Linked DNA regions of Homo sapiens: region 1 is linked to region 2. The links come from fine-mapping of genetic effects on gene expression. A gene starts in region 2. The other region holds a variant in brackets. All regions are shown on one strand. Distances are from middle to middle. Region 1 has its middle 6.0 kb from the start of TMEM156. Region 2 holds the start of WDR19 (WD repeat domain 19).

The links. PIP is the estimated chance that this variant, and not a neighbour inherited with it, causes the effect.
Region 1: its variant is fine-mapped to the expression of WDR19 in whole blood (INTERVAL, PIP 0.95).

What each region holds. Positions count from the first base shown.
Region 1 is chr4:39,036,927-39,039,840 of GRCh38, forward strand. No RefSeq gene overlaps it. Among named protein-coding and RNA genes, the nearest start is that of TMEM156, 6.0 kb to the left of the region's middle. RefSeq lists an enhancer at 1-530. The variant C/CT (reference allele first, on the strand shown) is at 1,714.
Region 2 is chr4:39,180,790-39,183,703 of GRCh38, forward strand. It overlaps WDR19 (WD repeat domain 19), which reads left to right and starts at 1,740. Exons shown (of 37, transcript NM_025132.4): 1 at 1,740-1,774. The coding sequence starts at 1,769. RefSeq lists enhancers at 1,409-1,588, 1,440-1,734, 1,859-2,008, 2,709-2,778.

The DNA of each region.
Region 1 (2,914 bases), 140 kb before region 2:
GTGGCTGTGGCAAGGTTGCGGCAAAGAACTCCATGACATGAGTGCACACAGGAGGTCACCCCTTCAACAGCCAGGTTGAGTCAGCCCCTCAGAGAACCGGAAAAGGTGCTCAGCACTGCTCAGACCCCAGGCTGCGGGTCACTGAGCTGCCTTATCTTTGTTCACTCAGTGCATTTCTTTTTTATCATTATTATTTTGTTTTTTTTGAGATGGAGTTTCGCTCTTGTTGCAGTGAGCGTGATCTCAGCTCCCTGCAACCTCCGCCTTCCAGGTTCAGGTGATTCTCCTGCCTCAGCCTCCGGAGTAGCTGGGATTACAGGCGTGCGCCACCACGCCTGGCTAATTTTTGTATTTTTAGTAGAGACGGGGTTTCATCATGTGGGCCAGGCTGGTCTTAAACTCCTGACCTCAGGTGATCCACCTGCCTCGGCCTCCCAAAGTGCTGGGATTACAGGCATGAGCCACTGCGCCTGGCCCACTCAGTGCATTTCTCCTGTAAGTGGGGAAATATGGTTTGACCTGCCACCACCGGGTTTAGAATCCTCAGTGGGCAGAGTTTGCCCCAGGCCCTCACACTCAGGCCTCCTGAGACGTGGCTGGTCTTCTCATGCGCAGCCCACACAGGGCTGCTTGGCCCATTGTGTCCTGACCCCAATCACCTGTGGCTGGAAAGGCAGTTTGTTTTCACTAACAAAACCCCCTGCACTGAGACTGCAGCTTAGACAGGAAAGAACCTGTTGGAGCCTCTTTCCTCAAAAGAACTATGAGTCAGGCTTGTCTGCCCAGCTGTATACTCACAGAGTTGCGGGGACAAGGAGGGAAAACCACCCTGGAATGGATTCTGGAACCACTGTGGTATATTTCAGCCTCTGGAAACAAAGTCTGGCAACCGAACCACAGAATTCATTATATTGTTAATTACATGCATAAACAGGCAGGAAAGCATAACCAAAACATTCTTCATGATGGTAAATATAACAACCATTGAATATGTACGAGATAAAGTAAAATAAATTGCTCAGAGTCTGAAAGTATCAGGCCTAATAGATCCAGTCTCAGATAAAAAGAACTGGCTGCAACAAGAGAGCCCGTCCGACTCTAAGTAATACCATTTCTTGGTTTTCTTGGGGATAGAGCAGAGGAGAATGAAATGCTTGGTTTTGTTTTTTTTTGTCTGTTTGTTTTTTTCTTCCTTCTTTGTATTGCTTAGCCCGTTGACTCTGAATGTCTTCAAATGTGTACAGAGAGTGCCACCCTCTATTCACTCACTGTTTGTGTATTTCAGGTCAGCTGCTTGTTACTTAGCTAGAATCTTTCCCCAAGAATTCTGTGCTAAGTATAGTCACTGAATATAGAATGCAGGTGTGAATACAGGAATATGTGCTTTTACAAAGATGAACAAGATGGAGCTAGAAGAAGCTTAATAGTTGATAAGAACTTTGCAGTTTACATATCTGATTCATCTTTATTCATTCTCTCCCTCATAACAAGTAGCAGTGTTTTCTATGCTGTAGCCCTCTTTATAATATTTGGTAAATATTTTGTGATTTCTGTACACAAACTGTCAGCACAGTAACAAACCTAAATGCTTAAACTTGTATAGCGGTTATGAACTTATTCTCTCACAACATGAAAACAGAAGTCAGATTGAGTAGTTCCATTCTGTTAGTGAATCAGGAAGTAATATATCAAATACAAAGATTCATCCTGGAA[C/CT]TTTTTTTTTTTTTTTAGACGGAGTCTCCCTGTGTCGCCCAGGCTGGAGTGCAGTGGCACGATCTCGGCTCACTGCAAGCTCCTCCTCCTGGGTTCACACCATTCTCCTCCCTCCACACCATTCTCCTGCCTCAGCCTCCCGAGCAGCTGGGACTACAGGCACCCGCCACCATGCCTGGCTAATTTTTTTTTTTTGTATTTTTAGTACAGAAGGGGTTTCACTGTGTTAGTCAGGATGGTCTCGATCTCCTGACCTCATGATCCACCCACCTTGGCCTCCCAAAGTGCTGGGATTACAGGCATGAGCCACCGCGCCCGGCCCATCCTGGAACATTTTTAACTCATGAGACATCAACATCAATTAGTAGTCTTGCAACTGTTATTTTCAAAATGTAAAATAATTATATAGAGATGCTGAAATAATTTTTTAATACATGAAAGTATGAAATAATTTTTTCAATGCATGGAAATAAATACAAGAACTTTGTGTTCATAACCTTGTCCTTGTAAGTTTCTGAAATCCTAAGTTAATGACCTTCTAAAGTTTAATGAAACTCGTAGTAAAACACTATAGAGGAAAGGTCCTGTCTGTATATGTTATAACACTCAGTGGAAAAATGGCCATACTCAAGTAAGTTTTTGTTTGTAAAGGCTTCATATGCAGGGGGAGGGTGGATTTCATTCATTCATTCATTCATTCACTCATTCATTCAGAAATATTTCTGAGTGCCTGCCATCAAAGACCTCTCAGCTAGTCAAGGAGATAGACAACTAAGCCAATATTCACAGCCCATTGAGTAACTGCTACAATGAAAGGGGCATCCAGTGTACTTTGGGGGTACGAAGAAGGAACTCGTTCAGCTTGGAAAGTTCAGGATAAAGATCACCAGAGGAGGTGACCCTGGAGCTGAGTCTTGAGGGCTAGCAGATATTGGAAAGCAGGGTATTTCAGAAGGAGGAAACTTATTTAAAAGCACAGCTGTGGGATAAATGATATGTTCTCGATGCTGCAAATAGTTCAGAATGGACATAGGGCTAAATAGGTAGATAGGGGTTAGATTACAAAGGACCTTACAACAATGCTAAGGTGTTTGAACTTTACTTTTAAAGCAATAGTCACTAAAGCATGTTAAACACGGTCCTGAGGGATGAACAGAATTAAATTTGTATTTGAGAAAGGTTAAGGAGACTGACAGGAAGT
Region 2 (2,914 bases):
ATCTCCGCTCACTGCAAGCTCCGCCTCCCGGGTTCACGCCGTTCTCCGGCCTCAGCCTCCCGCGTAGCTGGGACTACAGGCGCCCGCCAATACTTCTTAATCTCCCACACTTAAGTGGAACAGGATGGTTTATGGAGGCTGAAGTTGAGTATTTCCCTTCTCCCAGGTAGTTTAGGCTCTGATAAAACCCCAGCAGACTAGGCTTTGGTAAAAATACTTTCTCCTGAGGGCAGGTCTTGTTAAGAACTGATTGCTCTGGCTATTTTTAAATGGTTACCCTTTCAGCAGAGGAATCTTTCAGTAAAAATTTAAGTAATTAACCTAACTGTCAGAGGCGTTTGAACCAGAGCGATTCCATTTTGAGTGAGGGCTAGGAAAATGAGGCTGAGACTTGCTGGGCTGAATTCTCAGAATTTGGGCATTCCTCGCCTCTAGATGTTTACGATTAAGGGAATAAATTAATAATGTTTACTAAAACAGACCCAGATATCGGGATATCTGGAGAACAAAGGCATTCCTAATTTTGCTTTAAAGATAATAATATCAATTCCTGCAAAATAATTAAGAAAATTAATCTTTGATCACAAACCCTTGTAGCAGAGCACATCTCCCCATATATACAAGCATTGTACCTAGGGTGGATGCGTCCCTTCTCTTGCTTTCAGGAATGTCCTACTCTGTCTATGGAGTAGCTGTCCTTTCACCACTTTACGTGTTTTAATAAACTTGCTTTTCTCAGCACTGAGAACTCGCCCTGAATTCTTTCTTGCGCGCGATCCAAGAACCCTCTCTTGGGGTCTGGATCCGGACCCCTGTCGTAACGTAACTGAAAACCCCAGTGCAAAGGCATAGCACCCTACTTAAGAATTTGCAAACATTCATTATTAGTTATTTCAAATCATTGATTAACTTTCTCTAAGCCAATCAGATTCCTACCTGATGTCGAAAAGAAAAGCAAAAGGTAGACTGTTTCAACACTTTCAGACGCTTGGGTAAAAGATGCACTTTCATGCTATAAATAATGCAGCACAAATACTGTACAACAGGGCTTTATACTTGGGGAAAAGCTGCCAGATCCAAACTCTAAAGGAAAACTATTGGAGCTCATTTTTCCTGCCCACGTTAGCTAGCACATTTTGTTGACATTGAAAAAAAAAAAAGATTTTGGTGAAACTGAAAAAAAAAAAGCACCAACAACCCTACCTTGAAATAAACTATTGTACCTCTTATGCCTCCTCCCTTCTACCCCAGAAACCTGGAAGAAAAAAAGATATACCCGAGCTCGTCCAACCCCTCTTTGCGTGGACTGTATAGGAGTATTTAGCCCATCCTGCCTCCTTTAATCTAACATTCTGCGTCTTCTTTCCTTCAGCTTCTCGGCGCCCCCTTTGGCCAGCACTGACATCTTAGTCATCGCGGTCCAAAATTTACGCACGCGCCTTTGAGGGCTCACAGAGCCCGTCTCTCCCGGACGAATCTCATCCAATCAGAGCCAGCCAGGAAGCCGAGGCTCAGCAAGGCCTCGCGACGCCCAACTTCCCAGGGTTAGCGTCTCTGATGTCATGTGATTCCACCCTCCGCCTCTCACCCACCCTCGCAGAGGGCGGTGCGCTTGGCCCGGCCCCTCGAGGCACCGCCTTTCAATTAGCACTCGCTGATTGGTCGCTGCTCGCGCGGTCTCCTGGGTGACGGGAACGCGGTAGCCTGCTTGGTGGAGACCGGGTGCGCCTGCGTACTTCATAGTTCGCGTAGCGGCTCGAGCGTGGAGATGAAGGTAAATAACTTACAAATTCCCGGGGTGGGGCGGGAAAACGCGACTACTGGCCCTTGGTCGCTTTTAAAAGAGGATATCTGTCCCTCTCCCTTCTGAGTTCGTTGGAAATGAGGAAGAGAGAGAGAGAGAGAGGTGGCCAGAGAGAGCGGGGGCGAAGCTGAAGGGACGAGAGAAAGGAAAGAAAATAGGAGGAGAGGAGAGGGCGGAGAGAGAGGCCTCTCGTTTTGGGGACTGCAGACGCCGTAGAAGCGGTGCAGAAAGTGGGAACCCCTCCCTGGCCGAAATGAGCGGACTGGATCTAAAGATACCCCAGCTTCGCACGCGGAAAGAACTGGTCGAGTTAACGCGTTTGGAGGGTCGCTGTGAAGTTGACTGGGTCCGATGTCACGAGCTACCTCATTTCTTGGGGCTAAGCCTCTGGCAAGCCGCGCAGCTGCCCAGCGCCTTAAAAAGAATGAAAAGCCTCCTAAAGAATAACTTCAAAATGTATTACCTGTGACCAGTCCAATCACCTGCTAGCGAGTGTACATTATTGACGGGAAATCTGCACCCGAAAACTCAGGTCTCACGCTCATGTGCCTCATCCTCTGCACGCACGGTTTCTAGGCTTGGGCTTCTTGTTCACCCCACTTTCTGATTTATCAGAGCAGTCCCCCCTTGCTCTGCTCTGGCAAAGAAATGGAAGGCTTTTTTTTTTTTTTTTTTTTACTGAGTCTCGCTCTGTTACCCAGGCTGGAGTGCAGTGGCGCAATCTCTGCTCCCTGCAACCTCCACCTCCTGGGTTCAAGCGATTCTCCTGCCTCAGCCCCCCGAGTAGCTGGGACTACAGGCGCGTGCCACCACACCCAGCTAATTTTTTGTATTTTTAGTAGAGATGGGGTTTCACCGTGTTAGCCAGGATGCTGTCACTCTCCTGACCTCATGATCCCCCGACCTCGGGCTCCCAAAGTGCTGAGATTACAGGCGTGAGCCACCGCGCCCGGCTGGAAGGCTCAATTTTAAAATTATTTTAGATGTCCTCATGCTTCTTCGTGGCTATTAGTGTGGAAATTGGAATTGACGGACCAGTAATCATAACTCCCATTTTTATTTCTAAAGCTCTTTACAATTTATGAAATATTAGAAGTGAAGAGTTATTAT